Regions from separate parts of the Homo sapiens genome. Here all the other regions are linked to region 3. The links come from fine-mapping of genetic effects on gene expression. A gene starts in region 3. Each other region holds a variant in brackets. All regions are shown on one strand. Distances are from middle to middle. Region 1 has its middle 18 kb from the start of CMA1. Region 2 has its middle 15 kb from the start of GZMB. Region 3 holds the start of GZMH (granzyme H).

What was found. PIP is the estimated chance that this variant, and not a neighbour inherited with it, causes the effect. A credible set is the group of variants that fine-mapping cannot tell apart.
Region 1: its variant is the best candidate, but not a certain one, in a credible set for the expression of GZMH in whole blood (INTERVAL, PIP 0.80).
Region 2: its variant is the best candidate, but not a certain one, in a credible set for the expression of GZMH in whole blood (INTERVAL, PIP 0.62).

Annotation. Positions count from the first base shown.
Region 1 is chr14:24,524,523-24,528,766 of GRCh38, reverse strand. No RefSeq gene overlaps it. Among named protein-coding and RNA genes, the nearest start is that of CMA1, 18 kb to the right of the region's middle. RefSeq lists enhancers at 1,790-2,422, 2,423-3,057. The variant T/G (reference allele first, on the strand shown) is at 1,910.
Region 2 is chr14:24,646,865-24,651,108 of GRCh38, reverse strand. No RefSeq gene overlaps it. Among named protein-coding and RNA genes, the nearest start is that of GZMB, 15 kb to the right of the region's middle. The variant C/T (reference allele first, on the strand shown) is at 1,619.
Region 3 is chr14:24,608,089-24,612,332 of GRCh38, reverse strand. GZMH (granzyme H) reads left to right here and starts at 2,648. Exons shown (of 5, transcript NM_033423.5): 1 at 2,648-2,774; 2 at 3,921-4,068. The coding sequence starts at 2,720.

The sequences.
Region 1 (4,244 bases), 84 kb after region 3:
CTTAATCCTGAGTTCTAGTTTGATTGCACTGTGGTCTGAGAGACAGTTTGTTATAATTTCTGTTCTTTTACATTTGCTGAGGAGAGCTTTACTTCCAACTATGTGGTCAATTTTGGAATAGGTGTGGTGTGGTGCTGAAAAAATGTATATTCTGTTGATTTGGGGTGGAGAGTTCTGTAGATGTCTATTAGGTCTGCTTGGTGCAGAGCTGAGTTCAATTCCTGGATATCCTTGTTAACTTTCTGTCTCGTTGGTCTGTCTAATGTTGACAGTGGGGTGTTAAAGTCTCCCATTATTCTTGTGGGGGAGTCTAAGTCTCTTTGTAGGTCACTCAGGACTTGCTTTATGAATCTGGGTGCTCCTGTATTGGGTCCATATATATTTAGGATAGTTAGCTCTTCTTGTTGAATTGATCCCTTTACCATTATGTAATGGCCTTCTTTGTCTCTTTTGATCTTTGTTGCTTTAAAGTCTGTTTTATCATAGACTAGGATTGCAACCCCTGCCTTTTTTTTGTTTTCCATTTGCTTGGTAGATCTTCCTCCATCCTTTTATTTTGAGCCTATGTGTGTCTCTGCACGTGAGATGGGTTTCCTGAATAGAGCACACTGATGGGTATTGACTCCTTATCCAATTTCCCAGTCTGTGTCTTTTAACTGGAGCATTAGTCCATTTACATTTAAAGTTAATATTGTTATGTGTGAATTTGATCCCATCATTATGATGTTAGCTGGTCATTTTGCTCATTAGTTGATGTAGTTTCTTCCTAGCCTCGATGGTCTTTACAATTTGGCATGATTTTGCAGTGGCTGGTACCGGTTGTTCCTTTCCATGTTTAGTGCTTCCTTCAGGAGCTCTTTTAGGGCAGGCCTGGTGGTGACAAAATCTCTCAGCATTTGCTTGTCTGTAAAGGATTTTATTTCTCCACTTATGAAGCTTAGTTTGGCTGGATATGAAATTCTGGGTTGAAAATTCTTTTCTTTAAGAATGTTGAATATTGGCCCCCACTCTCTTCTGGCTTGTAGAGTTTCTGCTGAGAGATCCGCTGTTAGTCTGATGGGCTTCCCTTTGTGAGTAACCCGACCTTTCTCTCTGGCTGCCCTTAACATTTTTTCCTTCATTTCAACTTTGGTGAATCTGACAATTATGTGCCTTGGAGTTGCTCTTCTCAAGGAGTATCTTTGTGGCATTCTCTGTATTTCCTGAATCTGAAAGTTGGCCTGCCTTGCTAGATTGGGGAAGTTCTCCTGGATAATATCCTGCAGAGTGTTTTCCAACTTGGTTCCATTCTCCCTGTCACTTTCAGGTACACCAATCAGATGTAGATTTGGTCTTTTCACATAGTCCCATATTTCTTGGAGGCTTTGTTCATTTCTTTTTATTCTTTTTTCTATAAACTTCCCTTCTCGCTTCATTTCATTCATTTCATCTTCCGTCACTGGTACCCTTTCTTCCAGTTGATCGCATCAGCTCCTGAGGTTTCTGCATTCTTCACGTAGTTCTCGAGCCTTGGCTTTCAGCTCTATCAACTCCTTTAAGCACTTCTCTGTATTGGTTATTCTAGTTATACATTCGTCTAAATTTTTTTCAAAGTTTTTAACTTCTTTGCCTTTGGTTTGAATTTCCTCCTGTAGCTCGGAGTAGTTTGATCGTCTGAAGCCTTCTTCTCTCAACTCGTCAAAGTCATTCTCCATCCAGCTTTGTTCCATTGCTGGTGAGGAACTGCGCTCCTTTGGAGGAGGAGAGGTGCTCTGCTTTTTAGAGTTTCCAGTTTTTCTGCTCTGTTTTTTCCTCCTCTTTGTGGTTTTATCTACTTTTGGTCTTTGATGATGGTGATGTACAGATGGGTTTTTGGTGTGGATGTCCTTTCTGTTTGTTAGCTTTCCTTCTAACAGACAAGACCCTCAGC[T/G]GCAGGTCTGTTGGAGTTTGCTGGAGGTCCACTCCAGACCCTGTTTGCCTGGGTATCATCAGAACAGCAGATTTTTGTGAACCGCGAATGCTGCTGTCTGATCGTTCCTCTGGAAGTTTTGTCTCAGAGGAGTACCCGGCCGTGTGAGGTGTCAGTCTGCCCCTACTGCGGGGTGCCTCCCAGCTAGGCTGCTCAGGGGTCAGGGGTCAGGGACCCACTTGAGGAGGCAGTCTGCCCGTTCTCAGATCTCCAGCTGCTTGCTGGGAGGACCACTGCTCTCTTCAAAGCTGTCAGACAGGGACATTTAAGTCTGCAGAGGTTACTGCTGTCTTTTGTTTGTCTGTGCCCTGCCCCCAGAGGTGGAGCCTACAGAGGCAGGCAGGCCTCCTTGAGCTGTGGTGGGCTCCACCCAGTTCGAGCTTCCCAGCTGCCTTGTTTACCTAAGCAAGCCTGGGCAATGGCGGGCGCCCCTCCCCCAGCCTCGCTGCCACGTTGCAGTTTGATCTCAGACTGCTGTGCTAGCAATCAGTGAGACTCCATGGGCATAGGACCCTCTGAGCCATGTGCAGGATATAATCTCCTGGTGCACCATTTTTTAAGCCCGTAGGAAAAGCGCAGTATTCGGGTGGGAGTGACCCTATTTTCCAGGTGCCGTCTGTCACCCCTTTCTTTGACTAGGAAAGGGAACTCCCTGACCCCTTGCACTTCCCAAGTGAGGCAATGCCTCACCCTGCTTTGGTTCATGCACGGTGCACTGCCCCCACTGTCCTGCGCCCACTGTCTGGCACTGCCTAGTGAGATGAACTCGGTACCTCAGATGGAAATGCAGAAATCACCTGTCTTCTGTGTCGCTCAAGCTGGGAGCTGTATACCTGAGCTGTTCCTATTTGGCCATCTTGGCTCGACCTCAAGAAATTCTAATGTAAAATGAAATTCGAGTCTTAAAAGAGGAAGAAAGAGAATATAAAGCAGAAATAATATTTGAAGTTCTAAAGACCAAGAATTTTTCAAAGTGATAAAATATATCAAGCTACAGAATTTTTAAAGTATAAATTTTGAAAAGAAAAATGAAAAACACACCTTGCCATATTATAGTAAAATGTTGCAAACAATTTATTAAAGTAAAAAAGGAACAATAAGACTGGCACCTGGTTTCTTATTATAAAAACAATGGAAGCCATAAGATGATATAATGTACTTTAAGGTGCTGAACATATATGTATAAAGGGTTTTTTTTAAAATAGTTACCAACTTAGTATTCTATAGCTAAAGAATATAGTCTTTAATGCTAGAGGTGAAATAATAATATTTCCAAATAAACAGAAAACTGACAGAATTCTTTGCCAAAAAAACCACTAGAAAAATATTTATATAAAGTTATTCAAATTAATAAAATATTTTTAGCAAAATTACTCAAATGTAAGAATGAATCAAATGCAAAGAAAAGATAAATACATGAGTAAATCTAATAAATATTATCTATCTAAAGCAATAACAATAATGTCTTAGTAGGGTTTTAAATATGTGGCAATGATAACATAAGAGATTAAAGAGAACTAATTAAGTTAAAATCTTCTAATGTTCTTGAATTCTCCAGGAAGTGGAAAGAGTACTAACTTAAACTACATTTAATAAGTCAAGACTTTATTTTTTCATCTCCAGGGTAACTATTAAAAGAATTTAAAAAAACATATAACTAGCAAGCAGAAAGAGAAGCCAAATTAAATGATTAAGAAATTAATCCAAAAGAAGATAAGAATGGAAAGAAAAAGGACATATAACAGGTGAAACATAGAAAACAGGTAGTAAGGTGGTAGATTTTACATCAACTATTTCAATTACTACCTAAATAGAGTTGTGGTAAGAATTGAATGGCAGAGCATATGAAAAGCATTTAATGCAGTGACTAGTATAATGTATAGTAAGTGCTCAATGAATATTAGATATTATTTTTTAAAATGCACCCCAAAAATAATCTAATTAAAAGACAAAATGATCATATTGGATTGAAAAACAGCTATACACTACTTACAAGGAAAATGTCTTAAATATAATGATACAGAAAAGTTGAAAGTAAAAAGATGAAAAAATAGATTGTTTGAAAACCCTAACCAAAAAGTAAAGCTGATCTAACTTCACAAAGAAAACTTTAAAGACAGGAATATTACTAGAGATTTTAGAAGACATTTAATCATGTTAAAAAGTTAAATTCATTAAGAAGACATGATAATTCTAAACCATGTGCATCTAATAACATAACTTCAGAATATACAAAGCAGTAATCAACAAAACAAATTCTCAAACATACTGGAACGTTTTAACACATCTCTATTTG
Region 2 (4,244 bases), 39 kb before region 3:
GAAATGATCGTGTAGTTTTTGTATTTGATTATGTTTATGTGATGAATCACATTTATTGACTTGAGTATGTTGAACCATCCCTACATCCCTGGGATGACATATCTTTTCGATTTTCTGTTGGATTTAGTTTGCTAATATTTTATTCAGAATTTTTACATGTATGTTAATCAGGGATATGGGTCTGTAGTTTTCTTTTTTTGTTGTTATGTCCTTTCCTGGCTTTGGTATCAGGATGATACTGGCTTCATAGAATAATTTGGGGTGATTCCCTCTTCTCAATCTTTTGGAATAGTTTCAGTAGGACTGGTACCAATTTTTCTTTGAATGGCTGGTAGAATTCAGCTGTGAATCCACTGGCTCTGAGTTTTTTGTTGTTGTTTTTGTTGTTCTTGGCAATTTTTTTATTACTGATTCTATTTCACCACTTGTTATTGGTCTGTTCAGAATTTCTGTTTCTTCCTGATTCAAGCTAGGAGGGTTGTATGTTTCCAGATATTTATCTATTTCCTCTAGACATGTACATAGAGGTGTTCATAGCAATCTCGAATGATCTTTTCTATTTCTGTGGTGTTGGTTGTAATGTCTCTATTTTCATTTCAAATTGAGCTTAGTTGAATCTTCACTCTTCTTTTCTTGGTTAGTCTAGCTAATGATCTATCGATTTTGTTTATCTTTTCAAAGAACCAACTTTTTGTTTCATTGACCTTTTGTATGGATTTTTGGCTTCAAATTTCATTTAGTTCTACTCTGATCTTTGCTATTGATTTTCTTCTTCTAGCTTTGGGTTTCATTTTTTCTTGTTTCTCTAGTTCCTTGAAGTGTAACATTTGGTTGTCAATTTGCTACTTTCAGACTTTTTGATAAAACCATTTAGTGCTATAACTTTCTTCTTAGCACTGCTTCTGCTGTATCCCACAGATTTTGATGAATTGTGTCACATTATCATTCATTTAAAATAATTTTTTAATTTCCATCTTGATTTCATTGTTAACCCCAAAATTATTTAGGAGAAGATTGTTTAATTTCCATGTATTTGTATAGTTTTGAGGGTTCCTTTTTGGAATTGATTTCTAGTTTTTATTCCAATGTGGTCTGAGAAGATACGTGATATGATTTTGATGGTTTTTAATTTATTGAGACATGTTTTGTGGCCTACTATATGGTCTATCTTAGAGGATGTTCCATGCGCTGATGAGAAGAATGTATATTCTGTAGCTCTTGGGGAAAATGTTCTGTAAATATCTGTTAGGTCCATTTGTTCTAGAGTGCAATTTAAGTCCAGTGTCTTTGGTTGACTTTCTGTCTTGATGTTCTGTCTAGTGCTATCAGTGGAGTGTTGAAGTCCCCCACTATTATTGTGTTGCTGTTATCTCTTTTCTTGGGTCTAGTAACAATTGTTTTATGAATGTGGGAGCTCCAGAATTAGGTGCATATATATTTAAGATGGTAATATCTTCTTGTTGGATTGATCCTTTTATCATTATATAATGACCTTCTTTGTCTTTTTTTTACTGTTGTTGTTTAAAAGTCTCTTTTATCTGATATAAGAATGGTTACTCCTGCTTAGTTTTGATTTTCATTTGCATGGAATATCTTTTTCCACCCCTTTGCCTTGAGT[C/T]TATAAGAATCCTTATGTGTTATATGTATCCCTGGAAAACAGAAGATATTTGGTTTGTAATTTTTTTATCCATTATGCCAATCCATATCTTTTAAGTAGAGCATTTAGACCATTTACTTTCAGTGTTAATATTGAGATGTGAAGTACTGTCCTCACCATCATATTGATTGTTACCTAGTTACTTTGTTTTCTTCATGGTGTTATTGTTTTTTGTTTTTTGTTTTTTACTTTAAGTTCTGGGATACACATCCAGAGCATGCAGATTTGTTACATAGGTATACATGTCCCATGGTGGTTTGCTGCACCCATCAATCTGTCATCTACATTAGGTATTTGTCCTAATGCTATCCCTCCCTTAGATCCCCACCCACTGACAGGCCCTGGTGTGTGATGCTCCCCTCCCTGTGTCCATGTGTTGCCATTGTTCAACTCCCACTTAAGTGTGAGAACATGTGGTATTTGGTTTTCTGTTCCTGTGTTAGTTCACTGAAAATGATGGTTTCCAGCTTCATCCATGTCCCTGCAAAGTACATGAACTCATCACTTTTTATGGCTGCATAGTATTCCATGGGGTATATGTGCCACATTTTCTTTATCCAGTCTATCTTTGATGGCATTTGGGTTGATTCCAAGTCTTTGCTATTGTGAATAGTGCTGCAATAAACATACATGTGCATGTCTTTACAGTAGAATGATTTATAATCCTTTGGGTGTATACCCAGTAATGGGATTGTTAGGTCAAATGGTATTTTTGGTTCTAGATCCTTGAGGAATCGCTGCACTGTCTTCCACAATGGTTGAACTACTTTACACTCCCACCAACAGTGTAAGAGCATTCCTATTTCTCCACATCCTCTCCAGCATCTGTTGTTTCCTGACTTTTTAATGATCACCATTCTAACTGGCATGAGATGTTATATCATTGTGGTTTTGATTTGCATTTTTCTAATGAACAGTGATGAGTTTTTTTTCATATGTTTGTTGGCCACTTAAATGTCTTCTTTTGAGAAGTGTCTGTTCATATCCTTTGCCCACTTTTTGATGGGGTTGTTTGTTTTTTTCTTGTAAATTTCTTTAAGTTCCTTGTAGATTCTGGATATTAGCCCTTTATCAGATGGATAGATAGCAAAAATTTTCTCCCATTCTGTAGGTTGCCTGTTCACTCTGATGATATTTAATAAATGATGTTGGGAAAACTGGCTAGCCATATGCAGAAAACTGAAACTGGACCACTTCCTTACACCTTATACAAAAATTAACTCAAGATGGATTAAAGACTTAAACGTAAGTCCTAAAACCATAATAACCCTAGAAGAAAACCTAGGCAATACCATTTAGGACATAGGCATGGGCAAAGACTTCATGACTAAACCACCACAAGCAATGGCAACAAAAGCCAAAATTGACAACTTGGATCTAATTAAACTAAAGAGCTTCTGCACAGCAAAAAAAACTGTCATCAGCGTGAACAGGTGTTATTGTTTTATAGACCCTGTGAGTTTTATACTTTCAAAAGGTTCTATTCTGGTGCATATCAACCTTTTGTTTCAAGATTTAGAATTCCTTTTAGCATTGCTTTTAGGGCTGGCCTTGTAGTAACAAATTCCCTTAGCATTTGCTTGTCTAAAAAATATTGTATTTCTCCTTTATTTATAAAACATAATTTTGCTGGATACAAAACTCTTGGCTGACAGTTATTCTGTTTAAGGAGGCTAAAGATAGGACCCCAGTCCCTTCTAGCTTGTAAGGTTTCTGCGGAGAAGTCTGATAGGCTTTCCTTTATAGGTTACCTGATGCCTTTTTCTCCCTGCTCTTAAAAATATTTCCTTCCCATTAAATTTAGATAGGCTGATGACTATATGCCTTTGTAATGTCCTTTTTGCAATAAATCTCCCAGAAGTTCTTTGGATTTCTTGTATTTGGATGACTAAATCTCTAGCAAGGCCATGGAAGTTTTCTTCAATTATTTCTTCGAATAAATTTCCCAAACTTTTTGCATTTTCTTCTCCCTCAGGGACACCAGCCATTCTTAGGTTTAGCCATTTTACATAATCCCATATTTATTGTAGACTTTGTTCATTTCTTTGAATTTTTTTATTTATTTTTGCCTGATTAGGTTAATTTTAAAGCCTTGTCTTTTAAATTTTTTCTTCTACTTGGTTTAGTCTATTGTTAAAACATTCCACTGTGTTTTGTAATTCCACTGCATTTTGTAATTCTCTAAATATATTTTTCATTTCTGGAAGTTCCAACTGGTTTTTCCTTAAAATATCTACCTCTTTAGAAAATTTTTCACTCATATTATAAATTGATATTCTCATTTCTTTATATTGTTTTTCACCTTTCTCTTGTATCTCCCTGAGTAACTTAATAATCAACCTTTTCAATTCTTTATCTAGTATTTCAAAGAATTTTTTTTTTGAAATGGAGTCTCACTCTGTCACCCAGGCTAGAGTGCAGTGGTGTGATCTCAGCTGACTGCAACCCCTGCCTCCCAGGTTCAAGCAATCCTCCTTACTCAGCCTCTCGAGTAGCTAGGACTACAGGTGCAAGCCACCATACCCGGCTAATTTTTCTTTCTTTTTTTTTTTTTTTTTTTTTGGATTTTTAGTAGAAATGGAGTCTC
Region 3 (4,244 bases):
ATTACAGCAACTCATGACAGAATAACCCTGAACCCAGGAAGGAGAAGATAACACCTAATTCCAATGCCTGCAACATCCTGGCTAAACAGAGGTCCTGAGTGTGTCCACATGAAAACTTCACTGCTAGCATAACCAGCATTCAAGAAACCCAGCACACTACACATATCTACAACCAAGGACTCTCACAGAGTCTACTTCACTCCCCTTCCACCTCCACCAGAGCAGGTAATGGTATCCATGGCTGGGAGACCTGAAGAGAGATCACATCACAGGACTCTTTGCAGACATTCCCCAGCACCAGCTGGAACCTGGTAGCGCCACTGGGAGGCTAGACCCAGAAAAGCAGTAACAGCCAATGCAGTCCAGTGGTCAGAAAGTCCCATCCCTAGGGGAAGGGGGAGAGCACCACATCAAAGGATCACCCCATGGGATAATAGAATCTGAACAGCAGGACTTGAGTTCCAGACCTTTCCACTGAAATAGTCTACCCAAATGATAAGGAACTAGAAAGGTAATTCTGGTAATATGATAAAACAGAGTTCTATATCACCTCCAAAAGATCACACTAGCTCCCCAGCAATGGATCCAAACCAAGAAGAAATCTCTGAATTGCCAGATAAACAATCCAGAAGATCATTAAGCTACTCAAGGAGATACCAGAGAAAGGTGAAAAAACAACTTTAAAAATTAAAAAATATATATATACATAAATATAGGATATGGGTGAAAAATTCCCCAGAGAAATAGATATCATAAAGAAAAAATAATCACAACTTCTGGAAATGAAAGCCATGCTTAGAGAAATACAAAATCCACTGGAAAGTTTCAACACTAGACTAGAACAAGCGGAAGAAAAAACTTCAGAGCGCAAAGACAATGCTTTCAAATTAACCCAATCAAACAAAGACTAAGAAAAAATAATTTTTAAAAAATGAACAAAGCCTCCAAGAAATGTGGGATTATGTTAAACAGTCAAACCTAAGAATAATTGGTGTTCCTGAGGAAGAAGAGAAATCTAAAAGCTTGAAAACCTTATTTGAGGAAATAATTGAAGAAAACTCCCCTGTCCTTGCTAGATACCTAGACATCCAAATACAAGAAGCTCAAAGAACACCTGGAAAATTCATCACAAAAAAGTCTATCACCTAAAGTCCTATCCCAGTTCTGTTAAAGTAATAGCAGGAATAGCACCTTATAAATACCTAGAAAAATAGTAGAAGGAAACATGCTTAAGCATTAATAATGATCTCCGGTGGTAGAATTTTTGGTAAGTTTAATTTTATCATTTACATGTTCCTACTTAACTATACATATATATTTATATATATTCATATACATAAATATACAAACATATGTATATATACACATTTTTGTTTATGGACAGCCTATGACTGTGAGCCAAGGGACATCAGAGACATGGCTCTCTGGAAACTGAGAGAATACTTAGTGGACAGTTTTTTGTTTGTTTGTTTGTTTGTTTTTGAGATGGAGTCTCGCTCTGTCACCCAGGCTGGAGTGCAGTGGCGCGATCTCAGCTCACTGCAAGCTCCACCTGGGTTGACGCCATTCTCCTGCCTCCGCCTCCCAAGTAGCTGGAACTACAGGAGCCCGCCACCACGCCCGGCTAATTTTTTGTATTTTTAGTAGAGATGGGGTTTCACCATGTTAACCAGGATGGTCTCGATCTCCTGACCTCGTGATCCACCCGTCTTGGCCTCCCAAAGTGCTAGGATTACAGGCATGAGCCACCGCGCCCGGCCTTAGTGAACAATTATTATCAGGATGATCAGCATCCATTTTTCCATCACCTGGCAACAACAACTAGCATTTCTCAAGGGAAATCCCCTCCTCATTCATAAGCACCATAGATGGAGTGGAACAGTCCCCACCTCAGCTTAAGGAGGGCTAAATAACCAAAGCATAAAGCAATCAGTCCACTACACTTCAGTGGACCCAATGATGACTCATTTTGGTTCAATAAATATCAAGTCCAGAACTTTTGTGCAGAACTGTGGAATAAAAAAAGTTATCTTTGTCACAGAATATTTATATTTAAAGAGGGGATTCTAAATATCCCAAAAATATGAATCTGAGATAGTGGTAAGATAGGAATGGGTTGCCATTTGCAGTATTTGTTGGGTGTGTGCAACTCTGCATACTGCTAAGGCAAGTCCAGCCTCCGTCTCACACCAACAGGCAGATTTCCCCACCACGGCCCTTACCATCTTGTGCTCTAACCCCAGATTTTCAGTCTACTCTTGCTAACCATCAATTCTTCAAGGGCAAGAGCCATGTCTCTCATATCCCTGGATCTGGCTTGCTAAATAATTATTCATGATTTTATCTGAGTAGAAAAAGAGCCAAGAACTGAGAAAAGGAGACATTCTTGGTTCTCAGTCACTGAGGAGCTTCTGCAGTACCAGCCTTTCTGCTAGCTGCAGCCACAGCTTCAACAGCTCCACCTCCTTGTTCTTTATTCTTGCTTTCACCTTGTTACTCAGCAGCAGGGGTGTAAATGTGACAGTGCCATGTCAACTTAAACCAAACCAGATAATTTTAATAAACCACCTTCTATAATGACACCCATCAAAACCAGAAGGGGACAAGTCTAGGAGGTCTCTGAGTTTACTGTACCCATCCCTCCTTCATCTCCCTCCAGCATTTGTTTCTGGAAGGAGTCAACACCAACAGCTCTGACCTGGGCAGCCTTCCTGAGAAAATGCAGCCATTCCTCCTCCTGTTGGCCTTTCTTCTGACCCCTGGGGCTGGGACAGGTAAGTGACTATCCCTATTCCAGAGGCCTGAACCCATCTTATAAGATACCCTGTACCCATGAGCACTGGTCAGGAATTTTCCTCAATCTGAGCCCACCTCCCATTCCACACCCAGACTTATAAATCTGAGGCTAGATAGACACTCAGCAAAGATCGAAAAATGAAGGGTGTTCCCTAAAAGGTTTAATGGGTGTTAGCCTCTCCCTAGACCTCTCCTTTATGACCTGGAGTGTGGATTGTTCTTAGAAAGGCATTTGGTAGGGAATGTGAAGCTAAAAAAGATAAGTAATTATTACTCTACACTCCAACCCAGGAAAGAGGAGCTCAGACACCAAGTTGCAGTCATAGGAGTTGTTACTGGACTCAGCTTAAGAACCACTTATTCAGTGCCCCCACCCAGTCACCCCTGCCAGGAGGGAAGCCCATGGTGCAACTGATCTCAGAGATGGCAAGATGACTGTGTCCATAGCTCTCCCATTACCTTGGCTCCACCTGGGCTTTGCGATTCATTTTTAGTTGATTTCTCCACTTCCTTCTGCCTTTGCAGGCCCTCAGCTACTCCACTGACCTGGTGATAACCCCCTCTAACATCCCTGAGGTCCTGAATCCCACCAGCACTACCCCCACTAAACCTCAGCCAAAGGCTAATTGGAGGCTATTCATTTATGCACCAAACAACACTTACTGAGAACCTAGAATGTGTTCAGCCCTGGCACATGAGAATTTTAGAAAATCCAACTCCAGAAGCTCATGGGTAGATCATTAGAAAATGGCACCAATCAGGAGGACAGCAGAGGCTCAGAGGAATCAGAGAGACTCACTAAAAAGGAGGAGCCTGGGAAGTCCTGTCCAGGATCCTCTGGGGCTCTACCACTGTGAAAATAGATCTTTCTTCCTCCATGTGTGTTTCTGCAGTAGGATGCAGAAGTCAAGCACTGTCCATTCTTTCTGAGAGAAGGTTCTGAGACTTAAAGTTCAGAAAAGCTTGCTCTGCCTGCAAGGAGTACTGCCTGCAGAGCTCAGGAGGACCCCTCCCTCACTGTCTGCAGCACACAAAACACTTCACCCTCAATCACTGTCGTCCTAAGCCTTCTCTCCTGACTGCAGCCATCCCCAGCTACTTTATCTTCCAGTCTTTCCTTTCAGAGGAGATCATCGGGGGCCATGAGGCCAAGCCCCACTCCCGCCCCTACATGGCCTTTGTTCAGTTTCTGCAAGAGAAGAGTCGGAAGAGGTGTGGCGGCATCCTAGTGAGAAAGGACTTTGTGCTGACAGCTGCTCACTGCCAGGGAAGGTAAGGAGCAGCACCAGCTCACCTCCTGAGTTCCCCCTACAGGGACCCTTGTTTTCTCCTGGGGACTGCAGCCCAGGGGAGCTTCCAGAGTTCCTGGTAACACAAGCCCATGAAAGCTCATCGGAGCAGCCACCTGGGAATAGGACTAAGATGATGAAAGGCTGAGAAATAGGACA